Regions from separate parts of the Homo sapiens genome. Here all the other regions are reported to be linked to region 6. Evidence: microRNA targets listed by miRTarBase, many of them from high-throughput screens and not tested one by one. Region 6 holds a microRNA gene; each other region holds the end of a gene's coding sequence.

What was found. Region 6 holds the annotated microRNA hsa-miR-761 (GCAGCAGGGUGAAACUGACACA, at 1,548-1,569, shown strand). A microRNA usually pairs through its seed, bases 2 to 8, with sites in the 3' UTR of a target mRNA and lowers its output. Matches are read on the target gene's strand: a 7mer-m8 pairs with bases 2 to 8, a 7mer-A1 pairs with bases 2 to 7 and ends in A, and an 8mer does both.
Region 1: the mRNA of TRIM29 is a reported target of hsa-miR-761. Seed matches in the 3' UTR shown: 7mer-m8 at 3,759-3,765, 7mer-m8 at 3,435-3,441 and 7mer-A1 at 3,094-3,100.
Region 2: miRTarBase lists TFAP2C as a target of hsa-miR-761. Seed matches in the 3' UTR shown: 8mer at 3,149-3,156.
Region 3: miRTarBase lists C9orf78 as a target of hsa-miR-761. Seed matches in the 3' UTR shown: 7mer-m8 at 2,867-2,873.
Region 4: miRTarBase lists WDR81 as a target of hsa-miR-761. Seed matches in the 3' UTR shown: 7mer-m8 at 1,308-1,314 and 7mer-m8 at 1,441-1,447.
Region 5: miRTarBase lists NAP1L4 as a target of hsa-miR-761. The part of its 3' UTR that is shown has no 7-base or 8-base seed match.

The regions. Positions count from the first base shown.
Region 1 is chr11:120,108,600-120,112,704 of GRCh38, forward strand. TRIM29 (tripartite motif containing 29) reads right to left here. Exons shown (of 9, transcript NM_012101.4): 9 at 2,687-3,877. The coding sequence ends at 3,815. Among named protein-coding and RNA genes, the nearest start is that of TRIM29, 27 kb to the right of the region's middle.
Region 2 is chr20:56,637,688-56,641,792 of GRCh38, reverse strand. It overlaps TFAP2C (transcription factor AP-2 gamma), which reads right to left. Exons shown (of 7, transcript NM_003222.4): 7 at 2,510-4,065. The coding sequence ends at 3,780. Among named protein-coding and RNA genes, the nearest start is that of TFAP2C, 10 kb to the right of the region's middle.
Region 3 is chr9:129,824,825-129,828,929 of GRCh38, forward strand. It overlaps C9orf78 (chromosome 9 open reading frame 78), which reads right to left. Exons shown (of 9, transcript NM_016520.3): 9 at 2,466-3,428. The coding sequence ends at 3,337. Among named protein-coding and RNA genes, the nearest start is that of TOR1A, 2.7 kb to the left of the region's middle. RefSeq lists a silencer at 3,226-3,520.
Region 4 is chr17:1,737,082-1,741,186 of GRCh38, forward strand. It overlaps WDR81 (WD repeat domain 81), which reads left to right. Exons shown (of 10, transcript NM_001163809.2): 10 at 284-1,504. The coding sequence ends at 604. Among named protein-coding and RNA genes, the nearest start is that of SERPINF2, 3.7 kb to the right of the region's middle.
Region 5 is chr11:2,946,030-2,950,132 of GRCh38, reverse strand. It overlaps NAP1L4 (nucleosome assembly protein 1 like 4), which reads left to right. Exons shown (of 16, transcript NM_005969.4): 15 at 869-906. The coding sequence ends at 874. Among named protein-coding and RNA genes, the nearest start is that of SNORA54, 16 kb to the left of the region's middle. RefSeq lists enhancers at 1,887-2,500, 2,501-3,116, 3,117-3,730, 3,731-4,103.
Region 6 is chr1:51,833,944-51,837,943 of GRCh38, reverse strand. MIR761 (microRNA 761) reads left to right here and starts at 1,542; the gene lies at 1,542-1,600. It overlaps NRDC (nardilysin convertase), which reads left to right. Exons shown (of 31, transcript NM_001101662.2): 3 at 1,732-1,813; 4 at 3,774-3,927.

The DNA of each region.
Region 1 (4,105 bases), not on the chromosome of region 6:
TTGCAGTTTTTTGTTGCTCACAGCAGTCCTTTAAGATGTTATCCCCACTGAAGCTCAGACAGAGTGGGCAGCTTGGCCCTGGTCTTACAGCTGATGGGCAGTGCAGCCAGGATTCTGGCCCTGACAGTGTGGCTCCAGCTCCACACAGTGCCCTCAGAAGCCTATGCCTCAGCTCTCCACACAATGAAATGTACCAGGCACCCATTATTGGATGCCTTCCAGCTCCCCTTTTGATTTTTTCACCTTCCTCTCCCACTTCCTCTTCCCAGTTAACTGCTTCTTAGCCTCCAAGGCCCGCCCACGTGCCAGGCACTGTTCTAGGACAACATGATGGAATAACCCCTGCTATCACGGAGTCCACATTCCAGCAGGTCCTGAGGCCCAGAGCAGAGCTCAGAAGCTCCTGCGTCTCCAGCCTTCCCCCGTCCTGGACAGAGAAGGCTTCTCAGATGGGGACCCATGCCCCTGACAGGGTCTAAAGGAAAGGAGAGGCACGGGGCTGGGTACAGGGAGCCTTGGAGATTTGGGAGTCCAACCTGCCTGCCTATCAGCCCAGGTCTGATGGTGGATTCCCAACCTGACACCAAGCTCAATGTTCCTGTCCCTTCCAACCCTCCTTTTGCTGTGGTCTCCACCTCACAGGCTGTTGGAGCTGGGAAAGAACCCCAGAAATGATCCAATGAATACACCTCATTTTGTAGATGGAGAAGGTCAGACCCAGAAAGGGCAAGCAATTAGCCCAGATCACACAGCCAAGCAACAGAGCCTGGATGAGACTCAGGGCTCCCAACTACCCTGCCAGAGCTCCCTGCTGAGCCCCTCTGCTGCCTCCCTCCTCGCTGGTCTGCCAGGGGGCTACCCACACCTCTGAGAATCACCCAACGCCCAGAGCTGGGAGAGGGCAGGAGACAAGGGAGCATGGGCCAGGACTGTCTGGGTCTGAGAGGAACAGAAGTGGATATAGAGCCTTGCCCCCCTCCTTCCTCCCTAATAGGAGGATTAAACCTCCTATTCTCACTCATGCTGGGGACAGAGGCATTCTCAAGAACTGGGAAGAAAGGATTTCCCTGATTGCTTTATAATCACAGCTCAGACGATAATGGACCTGGTGGGGATTGATGGGGAGAGTGTGATGCTCAGCGACGTCCCCGCCCAGTTCCCAGCACAGCCCTGGGCCTCCTGACACAGCGGTCTTCCCAACATCCCACCAGCCAGCCTCTGTGCAGCAGGTGCAGCCCCTGGTGCAGCCCAGGCATGGGACAGGCAAGGGCCTGGCTGCCCCCACAGGGGAATTTAGCCAGACCTGGTGTCCCATCCAGTTCCCCTTCTCTGGAGCTGGTAGGCTTAGGGCAGGGCCTGGAGAACTGGGAGCCTCTCGTGGCCAGGGTCTTTCTGAGAGTCCGGGCATCTCTGGAGCCCAGGAATGGGTCCTTATCACCATCACAACCCCAGGGTCCTCAAGAAGGGCCAGGAGGCTGCAGGGCACGGTGCCCACAGAGGTGGACCTGCTGGGGCACCACGTAGGGAACCAGCACCCAGGGCAGGGGGCTGTAGGGAGCAGCAACTAACCCCAGGGACACTCTGCAGTCCCAGCTCCCAAGGGAGAACACCACCCAGGTGGCCAAAGCATGTGGGTCCAACTTGTGGTCTCTCTTCTTGACAGTGCTGGAAGGTCCTCCATGGACACACTTGGCCCCTTCTCCTTCCTTTCCTTTCTCACCCTTACCCTCCTGTCTCCCCCTTCTCTCTCTTCTCTGCCATTTCTCCCTCACTTTCTCAATCCCAAGAGCCCCTTCGTGGCAAGCCTGGCTGCTTGGCTCCTAAAGCTCCCTGGCCCAGCAGCGTGGAGAGGAGGAAGGAAGAGTGTTGTCCCTCCACGATGGACCAGCAGCCAGCTTGCTTAGGGACTTTTACTAGGACAGAGGGACTGCTCCCCTGATGTCATCAGGCCCCTGGTGGGGAGCAGAGTGAGGAAGAACAGTGAGAACAGAGGGGCCCGGGTGTCCCTGCCACACCAGGAAAAAGAATGTGGTTGTTTGACACCCTCTTCCCTCTCTACCATCATGCCTCCTCCTGGCTTGCTCACCTCTTCCAGGAAGACTTCCCTGACTCTCCTTCCAGGCTTCTCTGAGTTTCCAGGGACTGGAAGGCCTTTTCCCTTTCCTCCGTCCCCCAAGCCCAGGATGATGCTGTCTTCAGGAGCCTGACCCTCCTGCCAGCCTCAAAGGGGAGCTCTCCTTCCCAGAAGGCCCTCTGTGCACTGAGAAGGCCCTCAGGTCTGAAGCCTCCAGTGGACTTCCACTCCAGCCTGCGTCTGAGCACCAGAGTGCTTGGCTCCCAGCCACTTCTGGGCCCTTCTCCCCCTGGGAACTCTAGGGTGGGCCGGCCAGAAGGTCTGAGCATGGCAGAAGGTATTGAGCATATCCCCAGGCCCACACCCCACTGTCATTCTCCCTGTGTTCATTGTTAGCCAAGGCGTGCCTCCCTGAGGCCCAGGTTCCTGCACTGCACCCCCTGTGTCCCAGACAGGGTGAGGGAGGTCAAGGGAGTTTCAAAGGAGCCACGTTTCTGAGAGGAGAGCAGGAAGATGACCGTGCCTTCATCAGAGGGAAAAAGTGCATTCAGAAGAACTGCAGCCTGTTCCTCTGGGGACCCTCAGGGAAATGGTCATTCAATACAAGAGAAGTGACAGACCAATGGTTTATTCCAAAGGGGAAAGCCCAAGCTGGATGTCTCCCTCCCCAACCCCTGCAAGCTGGCCCATCCTTCCAGAGCCCCCATAGGCCTGGGGCTGTTGAGACGGGAGATGTCCCCACTGTGCTGCTCCTGGTTTTGTCTCCTCTCCAATCCTTGAGCACCCTGATATGCAACATGGGGGGTAATCAGAAGGAGGAGGCAGCCTCTGATGGGGCAACGGCTGAGGGTGGGGGCAGTGTGTAAGGCACCTTTTGCGGTCAGCCCAGCCACACTCCATCGCCAGAGAGAATGCCAAAGTGTAGACTGAATGAAATTCTGTAGGCAAATGGTAAATGGTAGCTGGGCCAGTAGCTATTTGCATGGGTGGATTATATCATGTTAAGGGAATTCTTTATCTCAGCAGAGGGAACAGAGGAATATCTTGGCTAAGGTCATCCTGCCAGTCAGGAGAAGCCACCCTCCAGGGACCACAGACTCAAAGTGGCTGTGGTGGAGACCCACCGCCTGGGTAGGGTGATGTCAAGACACTGAGAGGTTTCCATCTGCAGTGGCCAAGGGCTGCAGGTTCTGCCATGCTGGGCATTGATAGGTAGGACGAGAGAGAGCACGTAGGGCCAGTCCTCTGGGAAGCAGGAGGTGGGCCATGTGAATGGGAGATGGGTGGCTGTGCTGTCCAGGCATCTGCTGACAACATTGGGGGATAGGGCCTTGGAGAGAAACGTCTATAGGCCTGGAGACAGCAGGGCGTGGGCGGGAGAGGCAGGCTGATACCATGCGGGTACTCACTGCTAGCCCCCAGATCCAGCCCGAGAGGAGGAGGCTGGCGGGTTAGGGCAGGCCCCAACCTATCTCACCCCTGTGATGGGTTGGCCTCTGAGCACAGGAATGATGGTGACCATCTGAGGTCACAAGGCAGGAAAGGAGTCTGAATGGAGTGTGGCCAGTGGGGAAGTCGGAGAGGCCGGAACTGCCCCCAAGAGGCTGGCAGAGGGCTGCAGAGGGCAGGTGCAGGACCAGGCTCCCTCCCACCCAGACAAGCACAGTAGCTTAGAAGGCAAGAGCAGCAGGGTCAGGAGGAAGAGCAGGGGTGTGGCGCCTCGTTCCTTCCGCCAGGAGCTCATGGGGCTTCGTTGGACCCAATCCCGTTGCCTTTGTTGACGTAGAATGGCCGGTAGTGAGACTGTGGGGGAAACAAGAGTGGTCAGCGAGGCCAGACGACAGATGAGCCTGCTAGCTAGACCCACCCTACCCTAACCTGCCTCAGGAGGCAGCAGTGATCCAAGACCCGACAATTCTAGGGGCCTTTTTGGCCTGATCTGCAAGATTTACCTACCCTGTGATCAGGGGCTGGTCCCTAATGTCAGGATCTCCAGATTGGAATCCTAATTGGAGTCCATTCCCATAGTTA
Region 2 (4,105 bases), not on the chromosome of region 6:
GGAAAAGGGAGGGTGATTCCCACTAACATGGGGCTTGAAACAAAACCCACTCTGGGCCACGAGAAGCGAGGGTCCACCAACCTAATGCCAAAGGGCACTGCACCCTTATTTCACAAGTAAGCAAGAGTTTCCAGAAAAATCTGCAAGGGAGGGCTGGGCGCGGTGGCTCACGCCCGGAATCCCAGTACTTTGGGAGGCCGAGGCAGGTGGATCACGAGGTCAGGAGGTCGAGACCATCCTGGCTAACATGGTGAAACCCCGCCTCTACTAAAAAATACAAAAAAATCAGCTGGGCGTGGTGGCGGGCGACTGTAGTCCCAGCTAGTCGGGAGGCTGAGGCAGGAGAATGGTGTGAACCGAGGAGGCGGAGCTTGTAGTGAGCTGAGATCATGCCATTGCACTCCAGCCTGGGCAACAGAGCGAGACTCCATCTCAAAAAAAAAAAAAAAAAAAAATCTGCAAGGGAGCTAATGTTTCAGTAGGATCCTCTTGAGGGGACCTGGTTTTTGGCTACAGCATCAGCTCAGGTGTTGGGAAGAAAAACTCATTATCGTGCATCAGACTCAAGAGCTCAGTGGCAGTCCCCAGACTTCCAGTGGGGATGTGGAGAAAGAACCCGGCAAGTAAGAAGCACTGCTTGGGCGGGCGTGGTGGCTCACGCCTGTAATCCCAGCACTTTGGGAGGCTGAGGCAGGTGGATCATGAGGTCAGGAGATCAAGACCATCCTGGCTAACAGGGTGAAACCCTGTCTCCACTAAAAATACAAAAAAAATTAGCCGGGTGTGGTGGCGGGTGCCTGCAGTCCCAGCTACTCAAGAGGCTGAGGCAGGAGAATGGCATGAACCCGGGAGGCGGAGCTTGCAGTGAGCCGAGATCGAGCCACTGTACTCCAGCCTGGGCAACAGAGTGAGACTCCATCTCAAAAAAAAAATAAAAAAGAAGCACTGCTTGTGATTCCCTTCAATCCTTGGTTGACTTTGGGGCGTTTCCAGAACACTGACTGCGTTGCAATTCAGCACAGCTCCTAAAAGCCAGACTCTGGTCCAAAAGCAAGTTAAGATGCTGATAACAGAATAGCCCTTTTTCTTTCAGCCCTTTGCCCCCATAACTTCCTCTTAACACTCAACATTTCAAGCCTTGATTGAGAGATAACTGCCAACCTAAGATCTCTTTTCACCACTCCAAAGCAAAGCAATTGTGATCTTGTCATATCAACCAGATAAATCCAACTTAATGGGAATGCTTGGTGGCCAAGGACAAGATGCCAAGAGCAAAGCACTGGGTTGGCAGAGTTTAAGTTACTTAATAACATCCAACGCCAACATTAAGTCAGGAATCGTTGGGCATTTGGTAGAGAATTATGAATTAAAGATTATAAAACTGGCATTGAAGCAATGGTCTTATCCAATGGGGAAAATCCTACGGCTCCCAGTTCCCTTTGAAGCCAGGCCACACATGGCAAACTCTAAACACATCACTTCCTGGAGGAGATGCCAGGCTGCTTCAACTCGAGATCAAGTACCTGCCGTGTGCATCACAAACATCCAGCAAGTACATAACCCCTGCCAGACTCCTCTGCTCCTGGAGTAGCACAAAGACTCAATCTCTGGTTTCCCCTGCAGGCAGATGAAATGAAGAGGATGTCTTGGGTGGATGAGCACGATCTCATTTCCAAAGAGAACTTAGATGAATGGAAAACACTGGCATGCTGCACGTCCACTGCTTGCATTCGACTGAATGCCAAGTCCTCCTAAGAAACACCTGCCCAGCCTGGCGCGGTGGCTCACGCCTGTAATCCCAGCACTTTGGGAGGCCAAGTCGAGCAGATCACCTGAGGTCAGGAGTTCGAGACCAGCCTGGCCAACATGGTGAAACCCTGTCTCTACTTAAAATACAAAAATTAGCCAGGTGTGGTGGTACGCACCTGTAATCCCAGCTACTCAGGAGGCTGAGGCAGGAGAATCGCTTGAACCCGGGAGGTGGAGGTTGCAGTGAGCCGAGATTACACCATTGCACTCCAGCCTGGGGCCAAGAGCGAGACTTCATCTTAAAAAAAGAAAAAAAAAAAAAAGAGAGAAACATCTGCCCAAAGAACACCCATAATCATTTCACTTCCATTCTTGACCACTATACAGTATGCTGAGTACAGTATGCCAGTGTACCTGTCCTCAATACAGTAACCTTCCATGAGACATTGTTCCCAAAACATTGGCCCCTCTTAATGTCAATAAACTGTCCCTCAGACATTTCCCAACACCTCCAGGGTGGGGAGGATGATTCTATCCCTCTGCAGTTGAGAGACACTGATGACAGCATAAGGCCTGGGGTAGCTGAACAGTGTCGCTAGGGAGAAAAGGTGAAACTTCAGGTTCCTCCCCAACAGCACACAAAACTTGCCTGCTCAGGGCATTAACCAAGCCACAGTCAAGCCATAAATCAGCTCTGCCCTAATTCCATTCACCCAAAAGACTTTAAAACAAAAGCAAAAACAAAAACCTATAGCCAGACTTTCAGATTCTAACAAGAATACTTTTATTATACACGTATCATACACACAACAATTATTTGGGGAACATTTACAGGCAGAGAGTTCAATTCCAAATCTCCATTTCACCCACACACACTGTACTGCACACTCACCTTAGGGTTCAGCCCAACAGGAACGAGACAAAGTTATTGCTTTCTGAACAGAGAGTTTCAATTAAATAGAATCTTCCAAGCCAAGAACAGAGCCCAGCATCCTCTTAATTCTTAATACCCTGTATATATATGAATAAAACCTTATGATGTGTTATAGATTACCCCATCACCATTAAAAGTTAATATTAAAATTGGATCCCATGTCTCAAAAAAGTCGTAAGAAGTGCACCAGTATTTACAGACCCCATTAAATTACGCATAAATAAAATCTGTACACTCAACGCACTGTTTCTTAAAATACAGAACCTCCACGGGGACTTGGGGGTGACAAGCAGCAACAAATTGCTTCGTGCCTACCCTTTTCAAGTTTACTCGAAACATCTGAAATAAATATGCAAATAAAGCTTCAGTACCTTAAAGGAACATGTCATTTCAAAGAGTCTCCCATTTGAAGAGTTAACTTTCAAAGTTAAAAAAAAAAAAAAAAAAAAAGGAGAAAAAAATCAATCAGCAGGCTTCGTTTCTACAAGTTTCCTAAAACCAGAAGGCCCCCGTTTGAACACGGGGTTTAGAGTGTGTCAGATACCACTTATTAACTAGTTGCTAAGCAGATAGAACCTTTGCCTCCTACCAGAGGACTTGATCTCTGAAGAAGCTAGATACACACTTTTCTTTTTTTCAAGGTAAATATTTAGCGGACACAAAAACCAACCATTACCTTAACACTGAAAAAAAAGGTATTGTTGATCTGTTGATCTAGGGCACATCAATTTGACATTTCAATGGCTAAGTGTGTGGGTCTGTTGGCCCAGGGAATGTATTTAAAAGATTCTAAAACTTATAGCACCACTTTCAGAGAAGGAAAGAATGGGGTTCAAAAAAAAAAAGCTTAATGAATAAAGAGCCAGTACTTGTCACCTTCTGATAATAGGTCCAAAGTTAGGAGATAGCTCAGCGCTAGAGAAACAACTAAGAAGTCCAGGGGCGGGTGATGCAGAACCAGTGAAGGCTCTTTAAATAGTAAGGTAGGTAACAAACTCTTCCCCCAGGCCAGGAGGGGTTCCCAGTCTGTGCGGTGGAGAAGGATTTTTGCAGTCCTGTTCCTTCCCTACTCTCCTAACCTTTCTTCGTTCCAATTTTATTTCCTGTGTTTCTCCATTTTCTCCAGGGTTTTGTTAGAATCAGCTGGACTCTGGTCTCCAGGGTTCATGTAGGATTTGTCTATGACAATCAGGGCTTCTTTGATGTAGTTCTGCAGGGCAGACACCGCGGCACAGATGGCCTGGCTGCCAAACCCGTGGGTAATCAGGCTGAAATGAGACAAGCAGTTCTGTATGTTCGTCTCCAAGACTGGGGCGAGCCTGCTGGTCCCATGGGGTGTCCGGTCTTGGCTGAGAAGTTCTGTGAATTCTTTACACAGTTGCCTGTGAAGACAGTCAGTTGACTCGATGAGTTCCATCTAGC
Region 3 (4,105 bases), not on the chromosome of region 6:
TTACTTAATGCCTTTTTCTGCTGCAGGTTTCCATTCAGGATACCACATTATATTTCGTTGTCATGTCTTAGACTACTGTTAATGACAGTGTCTCAGCCTTTTATTTTTATTTTAGCTGGAGTGCAGTGGCATGATCTCAGCTCACTGCAACCTCTGCCTCCCAGGTTCAAGCGATTCTCCTGTCTCAGCCTCCTGAGCAGCTGGGATTACAGGCACACACCACCATGCCCGGCTAATTTTTGTATTTTTGGTAGAGACGGGGTTTCACCATGTTGGCCAGGATGGTCTTGATCTGACCTCATGATCTGCCCGTCTCAGCCTCCCAAAGTGCTGGGATTACAGGCGTGAGCCACCGCGCCTGGCCTCAGCTTTTTATTTTTGATGACCTTGATAGTTTTGAGGAGTACTGGCCAAATCTTTGGTGGGCTGGCCCTCTATTGGGATTTGATGTTTTTCTCAGGATTAGACAAGCGTTATGGCGTTTTGGAAGGAAGATCACAGAGGTAAAGTGCTATGCTCATCACATCCTACCAAGGAAGGGTTCTTACTGTTCAACGTTACTTACCACTGTTGGTGCTGACTTGATCACTTGACTGAAGTAGTGTTTGTCAGGTCCCCCCACCCCTCTTTTCTCTACTGTACTCTTTGGAAGGACGTCCCCATGCACAGCCCACACGTAAGGAGTCGGGGATTTTGCTCCACCTCCTTGGGGGCAGAGTATCTACAGAAATTATTTGGAATTCTGCATGGGAGATTTGTTTCTTCTCCCCCATGTATTCAATCATTTATATCAGTGTGGACCATTGTTATTTTATCCTTTGTTATACTACAGTACTAATTTTTTTTTCAAATTGTTCTCATTTTGGCCACTGGGAATTTGAGTGGTTCCTTGTGCTCCTTTGACATACACCCAGTGTATATACCAGCTTATTTGGGTTTGAGTGCCTCTTTCCTTTCTGACACTACAGGATACTCCGGGCTCATCTTGTATTTCCTGCCCCAGTCCTAGAATCCTATTTTCTACGAGGAACCCTGATTCCTTTCATTGTAAAATGGCATTAGAAACTGGCTGGGCATGGTGGCTCATGCCTGTAATCCAGCATTTTGGGAGGCTGAGGCAGGTGCATCACCTGAGGTCAGGAGTTTGGGACCAGCCTGACCAATATGGTGAAACCCCATCTCTACTGAAAATACAAAAAAATTAGCTAGGCATGGTTGCGTGTGCCTGTAGTCTCAGCTACATGGGAGGCTGAAACAGGAGAATTCCTTGAACTTGGGAGGTGGAGGTTGCAGTGAGCCGAGATCGCACCACTGCACTCCAGCCTGGGTGACAGAGCGAGACTTCGTATCAAAAAAAAAAAAAAAAAAAAAAAAGAGAAACCAAGGTCTGGGTGCTAGGTGTGCTTCTTGCTATTGAGATGTCATTTCTTTCAGTCTCAGCTGACAGAAAAAAATGTGTGTATATACTGTTAAACACACACATATCTATAAATATTTTTATAGGTAAACATCTGTACCTATATTAAGCTAAACATGAGCTCGTGCTGACATCTCCAACTCTAATCCATTACACAGATCATTGGAGCCTCCTCCCCTTGTTTATCTGTGAATTCCCACCCCAACAGTGAGAGAACCAGCTCCCTCCATCTGGCAGCCACTTTTAAGCTGGATAAAAGATTACTCATTTTCTAGCAAAGGGAACTCTGGCAAGTGAGAACTGTTGACCATCCACTTATTTGCCTGTTCATCCCATAAACACGTGTTGCGTTGCTGTGTGCCAGATGTGCTAGGCCTTTAGTATTCATCTTGGGTTACCCCTGCACATCGCTGGGACCTGTAAATGTTTGTTGAAATATCCTGAAAATATTTTTTAAGTTTCGACTTTTTCGTATTGGATTTAAAATACTTTTGTGCACCTGTTACAAGCCAAACACTATAGGGATCATTCATAGTTTTGAGGACTGCCTATCTGTCAGATTATGGGCTATGCCCTGGGGATTCAAATTTAAAAATTAGGCACACATGGTTCCTGCCTTCACTGACCATATTCAAGTGGAGGAAAAAAAAAAATCTCCATTTTACAGATGAGAAAACTGAGGCTAAGAGTGAAAAGGATCTGTCCAAGGACACAAGTAGTAAGCTGCGAGGTGGGCTCAGATCTGACTCCTGGGCCAAACCACTGTAACCACAATACCTGCTCTAAATCCACCCAGAAGTCAGCCAATCTGCTCTTTCCTCTTTTGGACCCCTGTGGATGCCTCAGGAAAAATGAGGGCACAGGTAAGAAGGTACTTGACAGCAGGTTGCAGCATGTCTATGCTGCAGTGGTCCAATCATAGCTCACTGTTTGAAATAAATGAGAAAATCCATCTCAGTAATTCAGTTTTACATTTAGGCTACCCAAACCATGGGCTTTAAAAACATTACCTGATGCTGGTATAAGAAACATAATACAAACAATAAGGTTGGATTCATTTTGAAATTTAATAATTCTAATAGTAATAAGAAACATAGTTTATGCTTTTTTTTTAATGAAAACAAACAAGTAATTTTGTAAAAGTCAGAAAACACCAGTATCCTTCTGATCTCATCCTGGATTTTTCTGTCAGCTGGAGGATGCATTTCTGACCCCATCCCAGACACGTGAAAGCAGAAGACATGATGCATCTATAATAATGAAAGCACAATCTAAAGAGTATTATCACACCGTGAACAGCTTCTTCCTGACCCAGAGCAAATATTAAGAGAAAGACAATATATTTACAAACAAGATTTAATAATGCTCACAAGAATAGAGTTTGCCCCCAAATGGAAAATTACACATTATTTTGTTTCAAAAAGTTATAAATTTAGTGCTTGAAAAATCCAGCAGGTAAGTAGAAGGACTAACAGGGTCTGTTTCTGGAACTGTCCGCCAGCAAATGAGCATGCTCTGTCCTGGAAGCCATTTTTCTTTTTCTTTTTTTTTTTTTTTTTTTTTTTTGAGACAGAGTTTTTTGCTCGTTGCCCAGGCTGGAGTACAAAGGTGCAATCTCGGCTCACCACAACCTCCGCCTCTTGGGTTCAAGCAATTCTCCTGCCTCAGCCTCCTGAGCAGCTGGGATTACAGGCATGTGCCACCACGCCTGGCTAACTTTTCTGTATTTTCAGTAGAGACTGGGTTTCTCCATGTTGGTCAGGCTGGTCTCAAACTCCCGACCTCAGGTGATCCGCCCACCTCGGCCTCCCAAAGTGCTGGGATTACAGGCAGGAGCCACCACGCCCGGCCAGGAAGCCATTTTTCATGGGAGGGATATAGGGAGAGGAAGGCGATATTTACATCCCACTCTGCACAACTCAGTACCGCCTATTCATTTTCTTGAACTTCTCATAATGATAGTCATCAGTTGCCTTCTCGTTAGCAGGACGCTTGCGGTTAGGAGGGGACCCTGAGAAGGAAAAGAACAGGAAAGGTGGTTTGCCATGCTGGAACCCACTGCTAGACTTTACTCCATGCAGGCAAAGACAACTGCCTGTTTCCTTCCCCACAGGAGCCCCAGCGCCTAACCCAGTGAACACAGTAGGGCCTCAGTAGATACGTATTTGTCTTTTTTTTTTTCTTTTCTTTTCTTTTTTTTGAGATGGAGTCTCACCCTGTTGCCCAGGCTAGAGTGTAATGGCATGATCTCAGCTCACTGCAACCTCCAACTCCCGAGTTCAAGTGATTCTCCTGCCTCAGCCTCCTGAGTAGCTGGGATTACAGGCACCTGCCACCTCACCTGGCTAATTTTTGTATTTTTAGTAGAGACGGGGTTCACCATGTTGGCCAGGCTCGTCTTGAACTCCTGACCTTAGGTGATCTGCCTGCCTCTGCCTCCCAAAGTGCTGGGATTACAGGCATGGGCCACCGAGCATGGCCAATACCTTTTTCTTTTCTTTAAAAAAAAGATGTGGTCTCACTCTGTCACGCAGGCTAGAGTGCAGTGGTCCAATCATAGCTCACTGCAGCCTTGAACTCTTAGTCTCAAGCAATCCTCCTGTCCCAGCTTCCCCAGCAGCTGAGACTACAAGTGTGAGGCACTGCACCCAGCTAACCTTATGAGTAGCTTTTATTTGTCCTTACTGA
Region 4 (4,105 bases), not on the chromosome of region 6:
CCACCGCATAGGGTTGTTACGAAGGTCAAGGTCGTCACGTGCACGCCTGGCACCATGCCTGTGCGTAGTTCTCAAGTTAGAGTGACGACTGGGTTACGGATGCTGAGCGTATTAAAATGAACCAACGTGAATATGGTGTGTGTGGGAGGGTGGCGGCTTGTCACCCACCCAGGACGGCCTGTCTCCCTGGAGAGAAACTGCGGAGGGAACTGGGAAGGCCTTGGGGCCCAAGGGTATGCAGAAGGACCCAGGCTCCTGCTGAGGCTCTCCTCTCCCGGGACAGGCGGTGGAGGGCAGCGTCCTGGTCAGCTCCTCCTCTGACCATTCCTTGACCGTCTGGAAGGAGCTGGAGCAGAAGCCCACCCATCACTACAAGTCAGCATCCGACCCCATCCACACCTTTGACCTGTACGGCAGCGAGGTGGTCACTGGCACCGTGTCCAACAAGATTGGCGTCTGCTCCCTGCTTGAGCCACCCTCGCAGGCCACCACGAAGCTCAGCTCTGAGAACTTCCGCGGCACGCTCACCAGCCTGGCCTTGCTGCCCACTAAACGCCACCTCCTGCTGGGCTCAGACAACGGGGTTATCCGCCTCCTGGCATAGACTGAGGCAGGAGCTGGCCGGGCAAGGGTGGGAAGACATCTGCGGGCGCGTGTCCACTCACCCTGTTCCCTGAGCAGCAGCTCCCTCCAGGGAGGCCCTGGGTCCCACGCCCTGGGTGCCCACATGGCCTGCCAACTAGGGCCTGCAAATGGAGTGGGGGAGTCCTGGCCCCTGAATCACCAGAGCCACCAAGCCTGCCAGAGGGGTCTCATTCATGGCTTGGGGACACAGGGCTCCTAGCAAGCAGGAAGTTAAGAGCAGGAGGAAGCGTTGCTACCTTCACTTCTCCCCAGCTCTGCCCTCTGGGTCCACATGAGGACAGGGAAGCTCGGGAAGGGGAAGGGAGACTGGCCCTGCCCAGCCGGTCTCTAGCCCCTCAGCCCCCGCTGGGCACTCTCTGTCCCATCCCTCTAGGACAGGGAAGCTGGCCTGGTCCAGGGCACTGATGGTGCTTGGATTCCAGCCTAAGGAAGGCTGGCCGTGGTCCAGGAGTTAAGGGCTTGGGTCTGGGGTTTAAGTGGCCACCCATCCAGGCCCTGGCCAGTGTGGGACCGGGACGGGAAGGAAGAAGGAGGCTAGGAGCAGGGGGAAAAGGTGCACTTGGCCAGTGGCGCCTGCCAGGAGTGAGTCCATGCGTTGTCTGCCCACCCCTACCACAGTGTTTGTGCCTTCAGCTGAGGGGGCAGCCTCTGGGCCCTGAACCCCTGCTGGGGCTCCACGACCCTGAGAGAAGGGGTGAGAAGAATCATCTCTGCACCTCGGGTCTCTGCCAGAGGAAGACTTAAGCATCCCTGCGACCTCACATTCTAGACAGAGATGAGGTCCAGGGGTTGGCCCCTGCTGCCTTCTCACAATTTGCAATAGATGTAAATAGGACCAATAAATCCTTTGGAAGAGCCATGGGGTGAACTGAGGCTTGTCTTTTTTTTTTTTTTCAATAGAGATGGAGTCTGACTATGTTGCCCAAGCTGGTCTCCAACTCCTGGGCTCAAGCGATCCTCCTGCCTCGGCCTCCCAAAGTGTTGGGATTACAGGCATGAGCCACCACGCCCAGCCTGAGGCTTATCTTGCTGGTGGTGTCAGGGTGGGGAAAGTCGAGACCCAGCAGTTTCCAGGACAGTGAGGGTGGGAAGGGGCCTGATGGAGGGAGTGAGGAGCAGGACAGTGAGGGTAGGAGGCGGCCTGATGCAGGGAGTGAGGCGCAGGACAGTGAGGGTGGGAAGGAGCCTGATGCAGGGAGTGAGGCGCAGGACAGTGAGGGTGGGAAGGAGCCTGATGCAGGGAGTGAGGCGCAGGACAGTGAGGGTGGGAAGGAGCCTGATGCAGGGAGTGAGGCGCAGGACAGTGAGGGTGGGAAGGAGCCTGATGCAGGGAGTGAGGCGCAGGACAGTGAGGGTGGGAAGGAGCCTGATGCAGGGAGTGAGGCGCAGGACAGTGAGGGTGGGAAGGAGCCTGATGCAGGGAGTGAGGCGCAGGACAGTGAGGGTGGGAAGGAGCCTGATGCAGGGAGTGAGGAGCCGGACAGTGAGGGTGGGAGGCGGCCTGATGCAGGGAGTGAGGCGCAGGACAGTGAGGGTGGGAAGGAGCCTGATGCAGGGAGTGAGGCGCAGGACAGTGAGGGTGGGAAGGAGCCTGATGCAGGGAGTGAGGAGCAGGACAGTGAGGGTGGGAAGGAGCCTGATGCAGGGAGTGAGGAGCCGGACAGTGAGGGTGGGAAGGAGCCTGATGCAGGGAGTGAGGAGCAGGACAGTGAGGGTGGGAAGTGGCCTGATGCAGGGAGTGAGGAGCAGGTGTGAGGGCGGGAAGCGGCCTGATGCAGGGAGTGAGGCGCAGGACAGTGAGGGTGGGAAGGAGCCTGATGCAGGGAGTGAGGCGCAGGACAGTGAGGGTGGGAAGGAGCCTGATGCAGGGAGTGAGGCGCAGGACAGTGAGGGTGGGAAGGAGCCTGATGCAGGGAGTGAGGAGCAGGACAGTGAGGGTGGGAAGTGGCCTGATGCAGGGAGTGAGGCGCAGGACAGTGAGGGTGGGAGGCGGCCTGATGCAGGGAGTGAGGCGCAGGACAGTGAGGGTGGGAAGGAGCCTGATGCAGGGAGTGAGGCGCAGGACAGTGAGGGTGGGAAGGGGCCTGATGCAGGGAGTGAGGCGCAGGACAGTGAGGGTGGGAAGGAGCCTGATGCAGGGAGTGAGGAGCCGGACAGTGAGGGTGGGAAGGAGCCTGATGCAGGGAGTGAGGAGCAGGACAGTGAGGGTGGGAGGTGGCCTGATGCAGGGAGTGAGGAGCCGGACAGTGAGGGTGGGAAGGAGCCTGATGCAGGGAGTGAGGCGCAGGACAGTGAGGGTGGGAGGCGGCCTGATGCAGGGAGTGAGGCGCAGGACAGTGAGGGTGGGAAGGAGCCTGATGCAGGGAGTGAGGAGCAGGACAGTGAGGGTGGGAGGCGGCCTGATGCAGGGAGTGAGGCGCAGGACAGTGAGGGTGGGAAGGAGCCTGATGCAGGGAGTGAGGCGCAGGACAGTGAGGGTGGGAAGGAGCCTGATGCAGGGAGTGAGGCACAGGACAGTGAGGGTGGGAAGTGGCCTGATGCAGGGAGTGAGGCGCAGGACAGTGAGGGTGGGAAGGAGCCTGATGCAGGGAGTGAGGAGCCGGACAGTGAGGGTGGGAAGGAGCCTGATGCAGGGAGTGAGGCGCAGGACAGTGAGGGTGGGAAGGGGCCTGATGCAGGGAGTGAGGCGCAGGACAGTGAGGGTGGGAAGGAGCCTGATGCAGGGAGTGAGGAGCAGGACAGTGAGGGTGGGAGGCGGCCTGATGCAGGGAGTGAGGAGCCGGACAGTGAGGGTGGGAAGGAGCCTGATGCAGGGAGTGAGGAGCCGGACAGTGAGGGTGGGAAGGAGCCTGATGCAGGGAGTGAGGCGCAGGACAGTGAGGGTGGGAGGCGGCCTGATGCAGGGAGTGAGGCGCAGGACAGTGAGGGTGGGAAGGAGCCTGATGCAGGGAGTGAGGAGCAGGACAGTCAGGGTGGGAGGCGGCCTGATGCAGGGAGTGAGGCGCAGGACAGTGAGGGTGGGAAGGAGCCTGATGCAGGGAGTGAGGCGCAGGACAGTGAGGGTGGGAAGGAGCCTGATGCAGGGAGTGAGGCGCAGGACAGTGAGGGTGGGAAGTGGCCTGATGCAGGGAGTGAGGCGCAGGACAGTGAGGGTGGGAAGTGGCCTGATGCAGGGAGTGAGGCGCAGGACAGTGAGGGTGGGAAGGGGCCTGATGCAGGGAGTGAGGCGCAGGACAGTGAGGGTGGGAAGGGGCCTGATGCAGGGAGTGAGGAGCCGGACAGTGAGGGTGGGAAGGAGCCTGATGCAGGGAGTGAGGCGCAGGACAGTGAGGGTGGGAAGGGGCCTGATGCAGGGAGTGAGGCGCAGGACAGTGAGGGTGGGAAGGGGCCTGATGCAGGGAGTGAGGAGCCGGACACTGAGGGTGGGAAGGAGCCTGATGCAGGGAGTGAGGCGCAGGAC
Region 5 (4,103 bases), not on the chromosome of region 6:
CCTTGCGTGCATCACAGTGTGCGGACAGGGAAGGTGAGGGCTGTCAGTCAGCCAGTGAACAACGTTGGGTGAATAAATGCTGCCCATCACTGCTGTGCGGGGTGTCTGATGGACCCAAGGGCCACGTGTGTTTATTGGGCTGTGTTTCCGCCTTGTGGGCGCTGAATGGACACTTTTAAGGTTGCAGTTGTAAAGCAAGGACTGGGGTCAATTGGCAGGGCCACCTCCTCAGACTCCGCGCACAGCTGCCTCTGTCCTTGTTGCACTTGTATCTCCCCCTCCCTGTATTCTGTGCCTCAGCTTCTCTTTTCCTCCCCTCTGTTGTTTGTTCTGCTTTCTCTGTCACCTTGGAGAACCTTGAGTCTCCTTTCACGTCCCAGGTTTCTAAAAGAGCATTCTCACCAGCCATTACAGAGAACATGATGTGGTGGATTACACATGCTAACACCCCATGAAACCTTTGATAAACGGTTATGTTGGTTGGGGGAGAAGGGACTAAAAACATGTTCCGGCTAATGGTGTGAATGAAGTTCAGAGACGGCCCGGCATGTGTGGCCAGGATAAGGCCAAGCCTGCTGTCCCTGTCACATGCACCTTCCAGAGAGATGGGCAGTGTTAGAGTCTGTGCAAGCAAAAGAAAACAAGGAAGGAAGGGAGGTTTTAGTATTGGGAGCAGTCTGATAGAAGTGAAAATCATGCTTCTGCCCATTTTGAAAGTATGATCTAGTGTTGAAGTTGTTCACCCCGAGTTCAGTATCTTGCAGCCCTTTTGTATCATGAGAAATTGTGGCCGTTTCCTCCTGTATAATTTTGTGCATTTCATTTTCTTTCATGCTGACAGTTCCTTTCAATTTTTTTCCCCATTTAGGTGTAATTTTTGTCTGTTAATCATTCATACGTTTCTAGGTAAGGTGGAATTCCATTCATACCTAACTTCCAAACTTCTGATCTATACTTTATACAATGCATTGTTTTGACTTTGAATAAAGAGGGAGTTGCTGTCCAGGTACACTCACTGTGTCACAGGTTTGACATAGGTGTCTGTTACATGTACTTTTAAAATCAACGAACCAAACCTAGATTTGGTCCCTGCTTTCTGAGCCCAGTGTTTCTTGCTAACCAAGTAGCAAAGATGTAACTTGGGTGTAATTTTCATTGCTGATGGTACTGCTTTCCAGTAAGAGGGCCCTGGATGGTCAGCAGTCTGCACGGTGGCACACACGGGCCACCATAAGCAAGCAGTCCTTGCAGAGAGCATAACACACTGGGCTGTCCCAGCTGTGCTCAGAACACACACTGGCAGTTGAAATTGGCCCACTGTCATTACCAACACGTGTCTGTTGAATATCTATACTTTTTGAATTCATGTTTTGTGCAGACCAATAGGTACACAGAGGGGTAACAGCTTTTACTGTGCCAGCATTTTTTATCTGAAACATGAACTGGCATCTGTTTTGGTGTCAGCAGTAAAAAGTACTGTTGTGAGGTTGGTGCTAGTTGAATGAAGCAAGAACCAGTTGTAGATGAAAGTGAGTGTCAGTAAGCCTGGAAGCTGTTTCCCACTCCACTTTCTTCAGTCCCTGTAGCTCTGCCCTGTCCTGGAATGCTGACAGGAGGCCGTAAGTAGACAGAGGCTCTTGCCCGTGACGAGACCTGTTCACTCGTGGCACTCGGGATGTAGTGGGAGAAAGCAGAGAGGTGGGGACAAGAGGTGCCATGAGGAACCCCACAACCATAGCAGGGCCTCTGCATGCCAGGATAAGTAGGCACTCCGTTTTTAAGGGTCTCGTCACAGAACATCAGCATGATCCTGGCAGCCCATAGACCAGACGTCCTTGAGGTCTTAGCGCCACCGCCTCCCTGTCTTCCTCATGTAGGCTGCTTTCATGGGAAACTGATGGTACATAGGGCGGATGCAGCTCTTGGAACGATTTTGTTTTCCAGGGCCAGGTTTCAGAATATGGCTGTATGTTTAAAATTATGTCTAGCTGCCATTAATTCCTGTTGTCCCCGCATGTCTGAAGAACTTAGCCACTCTTATTCCACCTGTACCCTCACCCACTCTCCCACGCCACCCCTCCCATGCCACCAGCTCTTTTGAAGAGAATCCTCGATGCGTGCCACCTATCCGTATTTCAGTATGCCTCCCTGGAAGAGAAGGGCAGGGTGCAACAGCAGCAACCCCCGAGGAGTGTCCCACTGAGGCTGCTGCCTCTTCAGCCATAGGGCTCTGGGCACTTGGGGCTTCTTCGCCAGCGCAGCTATGGTCGAGTGTGTTTCAGCGGCATGTCTTTGTTGCCTTTCTCAGGTCGAGTGTTATCTGTTCAAACCCCACCTTTTAAATGGTCCCATGAGAGATGAGATTTTTTTCCTATTAGTTGGTACCTTTTAAAATGCCAACTCCTCCTCCCTTGATAATCTTAGCATTGATTAATGACTCAACCATCATTAAAATTTGTGACATGAGATAAAGGACGCTTCAGTTTGGGAGTTTAGGTGTAGTTTTTTTTTTTTCGGCATGTGTCACAAGCTAAAAACAATTGGTGTCTCTCATATGTAAAATTCACTTCTAAAACTCCTGTCAGTCACTTGCAGAAGCTCCAGTGTGCTGTGTGAGCACCAAAGCCTGGCAGGGGTGGGCCACATGCTGCCTTCCTTCCCAGAGGGGGCTGTGCCCTCAAGGCACGGGGGAGGCAGCTCTTCCCAGAGTCAGGTGCATGGCCTACTCCCCTCCAGCAAGGCACTGGGTCATGACACCGGTCTTGAGAGAGTGTTCTATGCGGACTCTATTCCCTCTAGCAGTCTTCACCCAGGATATTGGTTTTATTTAGGACAGATGAATACTACATTCTCGTGGTTGAAAATACCTATTACATCATTTCTGCAACTTAGGATAATTTAGATTTATTTCTGGTTGAGCATTCCAAATCTGGAATCCTCCCGTGAGCATTTTCTTTGTCTTGGGTTCCAGATTTTGGAGTATCTCAGATTTGGGATTTGGGATGCTCAATCTGTGGTAGGATAAATTATAAAGTCCTGTGTATGACATGACATAGTATTTGCGTAATTTAAATGTACATAAAGATGGAGTCTGTCACCTTGTCACCAGCCCCAGTCTTCCCCGTCCCTGCACAGCTCCTTTACTGACATCCCATTTTCTAGGCGAGTCCCTTGGTGGAGGCACACTGCTTGTCCCACTCCTCCCCTCACTGCTCCTGCTCGGGGCGCCCTGCATCCCCCACACTCCTAAGGCCAGTGGCTCAGTGTTCTTGGCCACTACACTGGGCCACCTTCAGTCTACCCTTGAATGTCAGATTGACATGGCGAGGGTTTTTGGTCAGCCTCGTTTTGTCTTGGCCAGGCTCTTTGGGCAGCCTCTGGGGTGGCTGAGATTGGGAGCTTAGACACCAGGGTTCAAGGTTATTGATTTTGTTTTTTGCATATTTTACACATATTTTTTCGGCCATCCCTTAAATGTGATTTCCAAAAGAATGAACTGTAGCCTCAGCTTATACTGTGGAAGATATCATTTATGGTAACCCAGGGATCTTTTTGCCCCATACAGTACAAGTTCTTAGGTTCCATAGGCACGCTGGATTAAGGGCAATTTGTAATCTTAGCCAGAAATCATAGGTTACAGGTTCGTAAAGTTACTAGCGCAGAAGCATTAGCAAGATCGTGATGTATTTCTTAGGCTATTGTTGGCCTCCACACAAATTCATGGAGTTGCTGGATGTGGTTTAAAGGGTACAAGATCTCTGTGTTAGATAATATTGGAGTTAATCCATTCCTCTGGGAGGGGAATTTTGTGTCCCGGATGCCGTTACTGGAAGGATAGCATTGCCCCTTGGTGAGACTGTTAGGAGAGTGAAGGAGAGTGAGTGACAGATGGAGCTCTTGGGAGTGGCAGCTCATCATTTGTTGGTGCAGTACAGGCCACCAGAAGAGGATGGATCTGCCGGGGCGCTCCCTGGTAGTACAAAGAGCAGGAACCCGCTAGAGGAGAGATGTGCTTTCCATGAGCGCCAAGGGCCCAGCCTACCCCCAGACAGATGTGCCCTTGAGAAGTGGGGACTGTTGGCACCAAGAGGGGTTGCCTCCGC
Region 6 (4,000 bases):
TGTGAAACTTGTTTAAGGTAAATGTGAGAATTAATAAAGGAATTGAGAAGAAAGATATTTGATCGTTTTTTGAATAACATTTACCTAATTAAGAAGTTAACTACTTTTCTGAGGCATCTTTTTTATCCCTCTCCGTTTTCCTCCTCCCAAAAGAAGTTGTTCTTGATTTTAAAAGTTTGATAAATTAACAAGGTTGAAATTTGAATATGATATACATTGAATTAAGATTTGTTCAGGGCTTTCTTAATTCAGTTCTCAAGTATGAATTTCTCAGGTCTGAATTTTTTAGGTAGAAAATTCTCAAGTATGAATTTCTTTTCTAGCAATTGCAGAGCCTGTTTTTGCTGTGGTCAAAGCTGACTGATAGACTGTGGTTTAAGTCAACTTATTCAAAAATGTCTTCAACCCTGCTGGTCGAGACAAGAAATCTTTATGGGGTAGTTGGAGCTGAAAGCAGGTTAGGCACCTATTAAAACATCACAGAACAGGTTAGATTGTGGTTTGAAGAACTGGATATTCCCCAATGTTTTAACTGAGTTTATGTGCCTAAGTCTTCAAAATGGGGTTTATAGTATCAAGTGAGGCTGTTTGGTTCTTCTGAAAACACACTCATTTTCTGACACATGGCTAGACTTTATGCCAGGTACATGCTATTTTTGAAAAGCTCTTTTTTAAGAGGTAACTGTTTATTAAAACAATCTGTTTCACCAAATATGTTAGCCCTGTAAAATTGACATTTACAAAAGTTTGAAGAAAACAAATTTGGGAAAGTTAATAATTCGCCTTTCTATCTTCAAGGATTCAAATTGACCGTTTTTTCTCCTTTTTTTGTCTTTTAACTTACTGTAATTATGCCCCAATAGTTCGGGTGCAGTGGCTCACGCCTATAATCCCAGCACTTTGAGAGGCTGAGGTGGGAGGATTGTTTGAGTCCAGGAGTTTGAGACCAGCCTGGGCCTCATAGCAAGACCCCTGTCTTAAAAAAAAAAAAAAAAAAAAGTCCCAATCATTTTAAGTGCAGTTTGGTGTACCTCTTGGCCATCAATTTTGTTAAAAACTCTGATTTTCCCAAAGTATTGGGAGAATATATACTGATAAGTAATATATGCTGTATATCTTCAATTAGAAGTGAAGAACTAAAAAGCCTCTTTAAAATTTAGTTATACTTTTTAATAGCTACCGATTTTATCTTTTTTTATCACTTACTATTTTTGTTAGATGTTTTCCTAAAATGTTATCTTATTCTATCTTAACAAAATTTTCTAAGTTACATGTTGACAGGTTTCACATCTAGTAACTGAGTCACTCAACACAAAGCTTTTAATTGCTTAGAGATCTTCAGAGATATCTATCTAGATATGTTACTTCCGCAGATTTCCAAAATCTAGTAATTCAGGGAAAAAACTTGGTTCAGAATTATGAAATGCTGACATGAAATGATATTTGGGTGGGCTGTCCAGTCCCTCTTCCCTTTTTTTCTGTCTGTTTCTGCTTTTTTTCCTTAGGTCTGCACCTGTTCAGCATTTGGCAGGATGGCAAGCGGAGGAGCAGCAGGGTGAAACTGACACAGTTCTGGTGAGTTTCACTTTGCTGCTCCTCCTGATTCTCAGGGAAAGAATTTTGTTACTCCTATTGGAAAACATCCATCTCCAAATGAATCCTTAAGATAAGATGCGAATATTATTCCTTTAGGGTTGACTCAACTATTTGTATGTGTTCTAATTACTCCAGTCTGCAGCGGCTCTTTGTGTTGGAGTTGGGAGTTTCGCTGATCCAGATGACCTGCCGGGGCTGGCACACTTTTTGGAGCACAGTAAGAATTTGTAAAATATCATTCCTGGTGTGTTTTTTTCCCCCCTCCAAACTTATATGAATTGATATCAAAGATTAGCAAGTGATTTGACAGAAGTATGATATATTTAGCAAGAGAAAAGGCTAAGAAAAAATCCTTGATTTATGAATATCGTGGGGGAAACAATCTGAGTGTACTTATATTGAGAGTTAGAATGAAACCACACAGAAAACTTTTAAACTGTAGATGTCACTATTGTTGAGCTATGTTAAGGCCAACGGATCAGGAGATGATTGCCATTTTCTAGGAAATGACCAGTCCTGGGGAGGGCAGTCCCTTCCAGGGTTAGCAAGGCCCCCAGCCAAACATCAGAAATACAGGAATTCCCTGGGTGAGGTGGCTCACGCCTGTAATCCCAGCACTCTGGGAGGCTGAGGTGGGTGGATCACTTGAAGTCAGGAGTTCGAGACCAGCCTGGCCAACATGGTGAAACCCCATCTCTACTAAAAATACAAAAATTAGTTGGGCGTGGTGGCATACACCTGTAGTCCCAGCTACTTGGGAATCTGAGGCAAGAGAATCATTTGAACCTGGGAGGTAGAGGTTGCAGTGAGCTGAGGCTGTGCCACTGTACTCCAGCTTGGGTGATAGAGCAAGACTGTCTCAAAAAAAAAAAAAAAAAAACAAGAAACAAAAAAAACCTAGAAATTCAAAAGGCATGATTAATATAAAAACAAAACAATAGAAGCTTTTCATTTAATTTGGAATGTACCTAAATAAAACTTACACGGGGCCGGGCGCGGTGGCTCACTCCTGTAATCCCAGCACTTTGGGAAGCCAAGGCAGGTGGATCACCTGAGGTCAGGAGTTCGAGACCAGCCTGGCCAACATGGTGAAACTCCATCTCTACAAAAACACAAAAATTAGCCGGGCATGGTGGCGCACACCTAGAGTTCCAGCTGCTCTGGAGGCTGAGGCAGGAGAATCACTTGAATCCAAGAGGCGGAGGTTGCAGTGAGCCGAGATCACGCCATTGCACTCCAACCTGGGTGACGGAGCGAGACTCCAGCTCAAAAACAAACAAACAAACAAAAAAACTCTATGTGGATGTTATATAGTTACAAATATTTATTTTTATTTTACAAATATTTATTTTAAATTACTCTTTTTTTAATGGTCTGGTTTTCTAAAGTATTTGAGGGTATACTTCTTACTTTGTGAATTTTTATAGTAGCCATTAATCTGCATATGTTTGTGCTTAAATTTTAATCTCCTTAAATTTAATTGAAGAGATTAAGTTGTAACAGCAGTAGCAGTTAATCTGCATATATGTTTGTGAATTTGTTTGAATTTTAATCTAATTAATAAAAGGTGAATTTTAATCTATTTAGACTTAAATATATTTGTGATCTCTTTATAAGTTATATGTTCGTCTTATCTTTCTTTAAAGATGAAATTTTTTTTTTTTAGTATAAAAGTAACATGAGCATAATAGAAAGTTACAAAATCAAATGTAATGAAGAAAGTATTATTTAGGGTCAGGTGTGGTGGCTCACGCCTGTAATCCCAGCACTTTGGGAGGCCGAGGTGGGCAGATCACTTGAGGTCAGGAGTTGGAGACCAGCCTGGGCAACCTGGTGAAACCCCATCTCTACTAAAAATACAAAAAATTAGCCAGGCATGGTGGCAAGTGCCTGTAATCCAGCTACTTGGGAGGCTGAGACACTTGAACCCAGGAGGTTCAAGAATCACTTGAACCCAGGAGGCAGAGTTTGCAGTGAGCCAAGATTGCACCACTGTGCTCCATCCTGGGCAACAGAGTGAGACTCTGTCTCAAAGAAAAAAAAAAGAATTCAGACATAACCATTTGATGTGTTGGTCTATTTTCTTTCAGTTTTTCTATGCATATAAGAAAGTTCATGTGTGATAAAAATATTTTCTATATCTTTGTGTTGTGTGACTTTGTGTTCTTTCCATTTAGTGGTATTCATGGGTAGTTTGAAATATCCAGATGAGAATGGATTTGATGCCTTCCTGAAGAAGCATGGGGGTAGTGATAATGCCTCAACTGATTGTGAACGCACTGTCTTTCAGTTTGATGTCCAGAGGAAGTACTTCAAGGAAGCTCTTGATAGGTAACTAACTCTAAATATACTTTAATTTTAATGATCTAATGGCACTTTGCAAATGTAAATAGAGTGTTCTTGT